Linked DNA regions of Homo sapiens: region 1 is linked to region 2. The links come from fine-mapping of genetic effects on gene expression. A gene starts in region 2. The other region holds a variant in brackets. All regions are shown on one strand. Distances are from middle to middle. Region 1 has its middle 28 kb from the start of BLACE. Region 2 holds the start of INSIG1-DT (INSIG1 divergent transcript).

The links.
Region 1: its variant is fine-mapped to the expression of INSIG1-DT in whole blood (TOPMed, PIP 0.99).

The regions. Positions count from the first base shown.
Region 1 is chr7:155,337,611-155,343,089 of GRCh38, forward strand. No RefSeq gene overlaps it. Among named protein-coding and RNA genes, the nearest start is that of BLACE, 28 kb to the right of the region's middle. The variant T/C (reference allele first, on the strand shown) is at 3,226.
Region 2 is chr7:155,296,415-155,301,668 of GRCh38, forward strand. It overlaps INSIG1-DT (INSIG1 divergent transcript), which reads right to left and starts at 2,566. Exons shown (of 2, transcript NR_183448.1): 1 at 1,737-2,566. INSIG1 (insulin induced gene 1) reads left to right here and starts at 1,464. Exons shown (of 6, transcript NM_005542.6): 1 at 1,464-1,545; 2 at 1,845-2,283; 3 at 5,152-5,254. The coding sequence starts at 1,872. RefSeq lists enhancers at 460-509, 2,920-2,989 and a silencer at 970-1,799.

The DNA.
Region 1 (5,479 bases), 41 kb after region 2:
TGAGGGGGTAGAGCATAGAGGGCCCCCAGGAAGGACCCACCTAGAACTAGATTCTATCTCTCCTTATACACCCCAAAAGTCCTGGGCTGAAATTTCACACCGAATGCATCCCTTGCCCTCATTTTTCTTTTCTTTCTTTTTTATGCTGTTTCTTGTCTTCTCTTTCTTTCTTTTGGGGTGGAATTGTGTCCCCCTAAAAGGTTTTTTGAAAACCTAACTCCTGGCACCTGAGAAAGTGGCTTTGTGTGGAAAGAAGGTCCTTGCAGACACAGTTAGTTAAGATGAGGTCACATGGAGTAGAAGGGTGTTTGCACAGTATGCCAGCAATCTTAGAAGAGAGACACACGGAGAGGGGATGCCACACAGAGACAGACACACAGAGGGATGCCAGCCATGTGACGGTGGCTAAGGAGAGGGGAGTTACAGAGCTGCAAACCAAGGAACGCCAAGCAATGTGGCAAGGCCAGCAGCCGGGAGAGAGGCGCGTGCAGGGAGGCCAGCGGCCGGGACAGAGGCACATGTAGGAGGGCCGGTGGCCAGGACAGAGACTCATTTACGGAGGCCAGAGGCGGGCACAGAGGAGCATGCAGGGAGGCCAGCGGCTGGGACAGAGGCACATTTACGGAGGCCAGAGGCAGGCACAGAGGCACGTGCAGGGAGGCCAGCGGCCAAGACAGAGGCGCATGCAGGAAGGCCAGCGGCCGGGACAGAGGCACATTTACGGAGGCCAGAGGCAGGCGCAGAGGCACGTGCAGGGAGGCCAGCGGCCAAGACAGAGGCGCATGCAGGGAGGCCAGCGGCCGGGACAGAGGCACGTATACCGCGGTCAGTGGCCGGGACAGAGGCACATGCAGGGGGGCCAGTGGCCAGGACAGAGACTCATTTACGGAGGCCAGAGGCAGGCACAGAGGCGCGTGCAGGGAGGCCAGCGGCTGGGACAGAGGCACATTTACGGAGGCCAGAGGCAGGCACAGAGGCGTGTGCAGGGAGGCCAACAGCCACCACAGAGGCGCGTGCAGGAAGGCCAGCGGCCGGGACAGAGGCGCGTGTACGGAGGCCTGGAGCCAGGACAGAGGCGCGTGCAGGGAGGTCAGCAGCTGGGACAGAGGTGCATTTACGGAGGCCTGGAGCCGGGACAGAAGCGCGTGCAGGGCGGCCAGCGGCCGGGACAGAGGCGCGTGCAGGGGATCCGGCCAGGACAGAAGCACAGAGAAGATTGGCCCTCAGAGCCCCCCCAAGGGGGAACCACCTCTCACCAAGACCTTGGTGCTGGCCTCTTGGCCCCCTGAACAGTGAGAAGCCATGCCTCTGTGGTTGTCAGCCCCCGTCTGGCTGTGGTTTGCTGTGCCACCCCCGGACTGTCACCCCCCTTGCAGTTTTTCTTTCTGTGGCTTTCATTTACTCTCTTTCTTCTTCCTTTCTCATGGGCTTCCCCTGCAGGAAGTACACTTACTGCTATGTCACAAGGTGCAAGCGAATGCTATGGCTGTGCCCCCTGGCTCCCTTTGGGATTTTCCTGGGGCCCCAGGGACTAGAAATGAGACCAGGTGGTCTTTGCCCCCAAGCCTGGCTGCCACCAGACTCAGTCCCGGCTCAGTCTGGCTTCCATCTCTGGGGCGGCCTCGAGCACGGGCTCATCTTCCCCACACAGCAAACAGAGCCTCGGCAGGCTGTGCTTGGAGAAGCCACATCCTCTCAGACAGCAAGAAGGGTTTTATCCTGAGTACGTTTTTTAAAATTAAATTTCAGGAGTGGGGTTGGGAGCAGATTCTTTATTCTCCCACGAGTAGGTCTTTCCCACGGTGATGACCATAAGGACAACAAAAGAACGAGCGAGAGTCAGCATCACCTCCCGCCTCCCGAGCGAGGGTCAGCATCACCTCCCGCCTCCCAAGACACACGGGGAAGCCAGGCGCGTCTGTCACGGGTGAGGGCTGCTCTTGCCCAGGGCAGCCCAGGGAGGGGGTAGGCTGTTCAGCAGCCTCTGGGGCCTGGAGAAAGCGGGTCCCTTCTGGAGGTGTGACCCGGCCGGAGTCCTCCTGGGCTGACCCAGAGGGGCCCTCCTCAGCCCCTTCTTCCCACGGGAACTGCTGGATCCAGGCCTGCTGCGCGCCGCAGTGGGGCCAGCTGGCCTGTCCCATGTCAGGGGAGACACCCCGCCCAGCTGCCCAGGCACACACCAGCCCGCACCCACCCTCTAAGCCCACAGCTAAGCGCCCATCATGCACTCCAGCTTCAGACCCCGCTCTGGGGCTGCCACTGACTGCTATTTTAGCCGCTTGCTCCAGCTACCTTTTCATCAAAGGCCTTGAGACTCAGCCAATTCAGGAGACCACAATGGGCCCAAGAAGGCATCTGTGAATATGGCGTCTGCCTGTGGGGCCTCGTTCCCAGCAAAGGGACTGTCCATAGCCTTTCAAAGCGACAGGGCCCGATGGGAGAAGGGGGCAGAGAAGGAGAAGAGCAGCGGAGAAGGGAGCCAGCAGACATACTGGCCCGAGGCAGCGGGTTAAAGGCTGTGACGCCTGCTTTCCCAGGTCACAACGGAGAGGAGAGTCCGCTGGATGCTGCCCCAACCCTGGCCTGTGGCTGCAGCCCAGAGCCCTGTCCACTTCCAGGGGACCCTGTCATGCGTGGCAGCAGACACCCATCCCTGGACCGCAGGGTCTTCTTTCCTCTGAGCCTGTGGCCACACACCTGGCACAGGCCTGTGTCTGATCTGTTTGACTGGCTTGGCCCACTGTCCCGTGTGAGGCACACGGGACAGTGTGAGGCACAGAACCACAGGACCCCAGGGATGGAAGAGGTTGCGGAGGTCTGTGTCCAGCACCCCGCTGTGCAGAACGGCCTCCTTGCTTCCTGACGGGGACAGGGAACTCACTGCCTTTCTTGGTGCCCACTCTGCCTAGGATGCTCTGGGAGTGTCACTCTGTCACCAGCATTTGGTGTCACTTTCCTGCGGCTGTGGTGAAGCGTATCTAACAGAGAATTGACCAGCTTCGAATGCACCGTTCAAGGGCACAAAATCCATTCACAGAAATGTGCATTCTTCCCCACCATCTGCCTCCAGAACTTTCTTCCATCTCCTAAATGGAAACGACACCCACTAAGCAGTAACTCCCCACTCTGCCTCCCCAGCCCCAGCACCCACCATTCTACCTTCTGTTTCTGTGAATGTGACAACTCTAGGGACCTGCCATGAGTGGGATCATTCAATACTTGCCC[T/C]TCCGTGACTGGGTCATGTCCTCTGAGCTCACTCCTGCTGTAGCGTGGTTCAGGTCCCTCCCCGTGGCTGAGCACTCCTCTGCCGTATAGCGTGGGTCGGGTCCCGTGGCTGAGCACTCCTCTGCTGCACAGCGTGGGTTGGGTCCCGTGGCTGAGCACCCCTCTGCCATGCAGATGGACCACATGGGGTTCATCTCACCAGTATTTTAGGCTACCCTTGTCTGCTGGCTTCTTCCTCACAGCCTAAAAGTATGTTTAGGTCTCTTCCATGTATTAGCACACATAAAAATCCACAAAACAGCAAAATAGGGGCCTGAGACCCACCCACTTTGACATGGTGAAAACCAAGAGCCTGCGAACCACCTGCTTTGACACAGTGAAAACCAAGAGCCTGAGACCCACCTGCTTTGACACAGTGAAAACCAAGAGCCTGAGACCCACCTGCTGTGACACAGTGAAAACCAAGAGCCTGAGACCCACCTGCTGTGACACAGTGAAAACCAAGAGCCTGAGACCCACCTGCTGTGACACAGTGAAAACCAAGAGCCTGAGACCCACCTGCTGTGACACAGTGAAAACCAAGAGCCTGAGACCCACCTGCTGTGACACAGTGAAAACCAAGAGCCTGAGACCCACCTGCTGTGACACAGTGAAAACCAAGAGCCTGAGATCCACCTGCTGTGACACAGTGAAAACCAAGAGCCTGAGACCCACCTGCTGTGACACAGTGAAAACCAAGAGCCTGAGACCCACCTGCTGTGACACAGTGAAAACCAAGAGCCTGAGACCCACCTGCTGTGACGTGGTGAAAGAGCTTTCAAACACTCCCTAGCAACGCACCACATGCAGGGGGCTCAGACATCACAAACGTATCTCCTCTCAGTTCTGGAGGCTGGAAGTCCAAGATCAAGGTTGGGCAGGGCTGTTTTCTCCCGAGGCCTCTCTCTGTGGCTTGCAGTCAGATGCCATCTCCCTGGGTCCTCACATGGTCATGCCTCTGTGTGTCTGTGTCCTTATCTCCTCTTCTTCTAAGGACACCAGTCCTATGGGATTAGGGTCCACCCCAGTGAACCCATTTGACCTTAATTTCCTCTTGAATGGCTCTAGCTCCAAATACAGCCACATTCTGTGGCCTCCCCCCGGGGCTTGCAGACAGCTATTTTTACCTTCCCGCAGGGCTCTCCCTGTGGGTGTCTGTGTCCAATGTCCCCCATGTTTAAGGACACCAGTCATACTGGACTAGGGCTCACCCTAACAACTTCATCTTAACTTGATGACCTCTGTAAAGACCCTATCTCCCTATAAGGTCACCTTCTGAGGTCTTAGGGGTTAGGACTTCATCCTTTGGATTTATGGAGACACAATTCAGCCCCTAACATCTTGGAAATTCTAACCCACTTAACCCATTCTCTTCCCTGGAAGTTCAATATTGTTTTGATGTTTATGTGTAACATTGCTTTAAAAACTCTGTCTCTTGATCACAACAAGAAACACCAATGGTCTGCGTGGCTGTGGTTTCCCCGGCTCCCTTGTGTGGCTGTGGGTCCCCAGCTCCCTTGCTCCGAGATGTCTCTGTTTTGCTTTATGCAGTTTCCTTCAAGCCCAGCATTTCGTCCTAGGGGCCTCCCATGGACTGAATGTTGGCGAGGCCCCAAAATTCCCATGCTGGAGCCTCAAACCCCGGTATGGCTGTACGTGAAGTAAGGCAGCCATTAAGGTTACACGAGGCCATAAGGGTGGGCCCTGATCCCACGAGATTAGTGCTCTCATAACAAGGGACACCAGAGAGCTCGCTCATTCTCTCCTCCGATGCTGGCACCAAGAAAGGCCACTGAGGAGGGCAGGGCAAGAAGGTGGCCTTCTGTGAGCCTGGAAGAGGGGCCTCGCGAGAGCCCAGCCATGCTGGCACCCACCCCTCAGGCCTCCAACCTCCAGAGCCTGAGGAATAAGTGTCTGTGGTTCAAGCCACCCAGTCTGCGGTATTTTGTGAGGCAGCGGGAGAAAGCTATGGAGGGCTGTTATTTTGTTCGTATCATCTTTCGTGATGTGAAAGCTCTCTGTACTTTTAAAGTAGTAACCTTGACATTTTTCTAAACCATTCTTTACCATCTGCCTCTTTAATATTTGTTAGCAAGAGCTCCCCAACCCCCACTGCCCAATATAGTTCAAATATCTTCACTTTCCTCTACTTCTTTCTCACTCCCCACTTCCAAATTCCTGGTATGTTGATAGATTTTTGAATCATGCATCACCT
Region 2 (5,254 bases):
CTTGATTTAGATCAGCGTGCGGGACGGGGAGCTCACAGTGGGGTCGAGGAGACACAGCACAGGCTTCTGAAAGGTGCCCTGTCCATTAGGGAGCACCCCATTTACAGATGGGTCATCCTTCAGCTCACTAGTTTCCCAGCGCATGACAGTGGGTAGCTTTTTTTTTTCCTATTATAAACAAATCTTCGATGTGACTGCGATGATCTACGGATGATCTACGTATCTGGTTGTGTGATCCTCAAGCACTTATGCAAGGTGGAGTGTAAACAATGGCCAAGACCCAAACTGCAATGTTCCCTGAAGTCCAACCTGCTTGGAGTCCTTGGGAACGTGTACAATGGTTAACAGGCTTGAGAGGAGTCAGCTGGGAGAGTGAGAGCGAGACTGCCCTGCAGAGGGGCCGCTGAGGATGGACCCCTGTAGGCCGTCCACACCCACCACGCGTGTCATCCTCAGGAAATGCAACCGGATGCTCGGAATTTCGCCCCTAAAGCGACTCAGGGCAGTCTCAGCTCAGGAAGACTTCTTTTTTTGACCTTCTGGCTTAAAGCCACAACCCCAGGCTGAGGATGCCACATCAACGGCGTTTCCTCGCCACGCTGCAGGCGTGACTCACGTTTCTAAGCCTGCAGGGTCCCCGGGCCAAGCGCGGCTACTGAGAGCACAGCGTCCTCCCTCAGCCCCTGCTCATCTGCACGGAGCAAAGCCGCAGCTTTCTCTGCTGTCAGCGCTTTATACGACTCGGATGTAGGCTCTGAGCGGGCACGGGCCCGCCCTCAGACGGCGACCCGAGGGGCAAACAGGATGGAGGCGCGCTCCCTTGGAGGCTGTGGTCTCGATTTTATCTGCTCCTGGGTGGTGCGGGTGGTTTGCTCTCTAGGCGTGAGCAAAGGCCACAAGGGGCCCGAAAAAATCACCCAAGGATGCAAGCCCGCCATTGCGCTGAGCAGGGGCCTCCCCGCCGCCAGAGCCCGCGCCCCTCCAGGGAGGCCCGCGCGATCGAGACCCGCCGCCTCCCGGCCAGGCGCGGGACACCAGGCGAGGGGAGCCAGGAGCCGGGAGGGGCGGCGCCGGGCCCGCAACCCCACCCTGTCCTGCCTCCGCCTCCTCCCGGCAGGACCGTCCCCTCCCAGGCCCCAGCTCCGCGGCCGCCCACTCGCAGCCGGCCAGTCCCGCTCGGGCCCGCGTGCCCCGCAGCCGCCACGCGCCCCGCAGTCCGTGCCGAGGCTCCCGCCCGAGTGCGCGCGGGCCGGCGGTGGCGTGTGCGCACGTCATATGGGCCGCCGGCCTCCCATTGGTTGCGGCCGCCTCACCAGACCGCGTGCGGACGGGCTCGCGGGCGGGGCGGGGCAAGCTCAGGCCACGCCCCTGGGCGGTGCGCGCGGGCGGTGGGTAGGCCGGGCAGGCTCACGTGATGCGGGCCCCGCGGCCCGCCATATAAACCCGCGCGCCCGCCAGGCGCTGCGGCCGTCCCGGGCCGTGACTCCTCCTTTCCCCCGCCCCGCCTCCGTTCGGAGAGCCGGCGGGCGGGCGCCTCTCGGCCAGGTACGCGGCCGGCTGGGATAGGGGTCGCGGGCGGGCTTTGGTCGCGCAGCAGCCGGTCCTCCCCGGAGGTAGGCGGGCGCGGGCCCTGTTGGGTCTTTGGGACGCGGGTCCCGCTGGGGCCGGGGATGCTGCTCGCTGTGAGCGCGGGTCCCGTCCGCCGCTGGCCCCGGGCGGGCGCACGGGGGTCTAACCTTGGGGGGCGGCGCTGCCGCCTGGCCCGGGTGCCGGGGTTCGCGTCCCGCGGGGCCTTCCTCGCTCTTTGTCTCTTCTGAGTGAACTTGATGACCCCCTTCTTCCAGGAAGCGCCTCTTGGACGCGTGTGACCGATGCCCAGATTGCACGACCACTTCTGGAGCTGCTCCTGTGCGCACAGCGCGAGGCGCCGAGGCCCCCCGCGAGCCAGCGCCGCGGGGCTGGCGGCCAAGGTTGGGGAGATGATCAACGTTTCCGTGTCCGGGCCCTCCCTGCTGGCGGCCCACGGTGCCCCGGACGCTGACCCCGCGCCCAGGGGCCGCAGTGCTGCGATGAGCGGCCCCGAGCCCGGCAGCCCCTACCCCAACACCTGGCATCATCGCCTGTTGCAGAGGAGCCTCGTGCTCTTCTCGGTTGGGGTGGTCCTAGCCCTGGTGCTCAACCTGCTGCAGATCCAGAGGAATGTCACTCTCTTCCCCGAGGAGGTGATCGCCACCATCTTTTCCTCCGCCTGGTGGGTCCCTCCCTGCTGCGGGACAGCAGCTGGTGAGTACCCCTCCTGGTTCTTCTGGAAGTAAAAAGGGTGTCTTTTCGGTTGAAAGTACTTTTCAGCCTATAAGAAACATGCATTTGAAACTGGAACTATCCACAGATTGAAAGTGTGCATCTCCAGTCTTGGGATTTAGAGAAATGAAGGAGGGGTAGAGAGGACCTGGCACCCCCGAGGGCGGGTTCGGGCCACAGCTCTCTGAAGTTTGAGGAAGCACAGTGATGGAGATGAGGCAGGGAGATAATTGGCTGTTCAAGCAGGTGCTGTGCCAAGCTGACTGAGGGCCCTTCCCTCCTGGCGTCCGGGTACAGCCCCAGCTGTCATCCCGCGCCAGCCGCCCCGGATTGGCCGCCTGGGGAACTGGTGAGCAGCGGGACTGAAAGGCCATTGGTCGCGGCAGCAAACATGCTACCCTGCTGGATAACTGAAAACAAACCCGTCACATGGGTTCAGGAGGCGGTTGCCAGGGGAGCAACTTCTCAGCACTTCCTTTTGCCGGGTCGCTGAGTAAACTGTGGTCTGAAGCCAAACCGCCTACACCCTGAACTGTTAGAGCTCTGTAGATTACGTTCTTAAGGAAAAGAGTAACCCCCTTACGGCGTTTAGATTTTCGTACACCCAAGCAGTAGCATAGATGCTGTACAACGTAACACTGAGTCAGTCTGAACTGTGGACACGGGGACTGCTGGGTGTGTGTACTAGACTTTCTTGGCTATCATTGAACCGCTTTTATAGAAATGTTGAGTTGATCTTGGCTCAGCAGATCACTTACTGCTCCTGTAGTCACACAGCATTTGTTTATTTAACGAGCTTGTCGGGTGCTTTCTGCAACCTCAACTCTATAAGCTGTTGAAATGTTAATCCAAAAGTGAGCACCACAAGCCCCTATCCTTAAGCAGCTTAGAGTCTGGTGGGGAAAACAAACCAGTATGTCAGTGACTCCAGTGCAGTGCAGGGAGCATCCTGTTTGCTTTGTGGCTGACGTTTGTCAGCTGACTGCTGACCATAGGCTTCAGATGCTTTGCTGTGTTCATTCCTTACAGCAATACCATGTGTAGCTTCATTTATAGATGTGGCAACTGAATCACAGGTGAAGTCACATCCAAGGGTGCGCAGGTAGAAAGGGGCCAAGCCATCGTTGGTAACTGCTCCTGCTGCCTTGGTAGGTGTGTCTCCTGCACTGTGGAAACACATTGCCTCAGTTGACTCACTGAAAACAGCAAGCAGCAGAGAGGTTTGTAGCAGATTAACAGAGGGCTCCGTGTTGAAGAACTAGGACAGGTGTCTGTAATTATTAAGTAGTGGGTAGAATGTTTTCATATTTGTTCTCGGAGGGACGGGATCCTCTTTCGTTTTTCGAAACACTTTATGTGGCTGTACTAATTGAACATTTTTTGAGAACTATATCTAGATTTAAAATTCCATGTTTCATATACATTTGGCAGAATAGTTTCTTTCCTTTAACCAAAAACTTGATCTTAGAAATGAAATAGTTTAGCCTTCAGTATTTGTAATTGGATCCTCAAGGGTTTCTAGGAATATCTGGACAATTTCTCATACTCTCATATTCTACTTTTTTTTAAACCATCAGCCAAGAGCATAAGTAAAATTTTTCATAGTATGTTTTTTACCTATTTATTTATTAAGCTATAGTGAAGTAAAGTTAATTTGGGGGGTCCATTTTTCAGAACTCCAAAATTAGAACCTGATGAAGTATAATAAATTGAAAACAACATTTTTTATCTGAATGTTTGATGCAAACTGTGTTTCTTGTTTCTCAGTTGAACCTAAAATGTATATTTCTTTCATACTACACTGAGGTGAAACAATTGCAGGGTTCTCAAGAGCCCTGGGACACAGTGACCCTTGTGTCCCAGCATCCAACCCCACGGGCCGGCACCCCACTCCCCCCTACAGACATTCATTCCTGCCTTCATCTTTGCCATTTTACTTCTCTTTTGGAATGCCATTCCTTCCCACCTGTCCAAATTCCAAGTTCGTGTCTATAAAGAATAACTATTCCAGACCACAGTGATCTCTTTCTCTGTGTCCCAGTTACATAATCCTTATAATTTTACACATGAGAAAACAAACATGCAGAGCCACGTCCCATCAGAGGGCAAGCTGGGATTTGAGGCTGAGTTTTCTCTTCTTGGTCTGGTGTTCTTTCCGCAGCTTGAGGCTTGACCATGCGGGAACCAGATGGAGAATAAGCGAAGCCTGTGTGGGGCTGTCTCGCCCCGTACTTGCCCATGTGCATGTGTGCACAGTAGGTGCTCAGTGCCTCGTACAGAACATGCTAGAACCCCCGAAAATCAACTCCAGGGCCACTCTAGGAGCATGTGACCCAGACTGTCAAAGTCACATCAGCAAATATGTATCTCATCACGTGCCCAGCCCCAGTACTGGGTGGTGGCAGGAGTGTCAGAGCTGTGATGTGACAGGGTGTGGACAGATGCTAACCTTTTTATTGTAAGATAGAAATCACACCGGATGAAAAGACAAGGTGAACTACATAGTCATTTAAGTTCTGTGTGCTTTAGGCAAATGTGGATATTAAATATAAGGTTACATATTGCTCATATTAATATGAATAATCCCTGCTTGATTCCTTCCTGTGTTTACTGAGACATGTTCAACTACACTAAATAATAGTGATTTTTAAAAAACTTTTCCAAACAGTACAATTTTGTGGGAGTGGTACTCAAAGAGAACAAGAATATAAAATCACTCTGAAGTTATAGCTGATAATTTTTTCTAGGAAAAGGACTGGTTTGAGTAATGTACTGTGTTACTAATGACCACGTTGAAATTCTGGAACTTGAATCTGCTGTATTCTAACATTGTCAACTTTTTTAAAACAGCTGTTGTTGGCCTACTGTACCCCTGTATCGACAGTCACCTCGGAGAACCCCACAAATTTAAGAGAGAATGGGCCAGTGTCATGCGCTGCATAGCAGTTTTTGT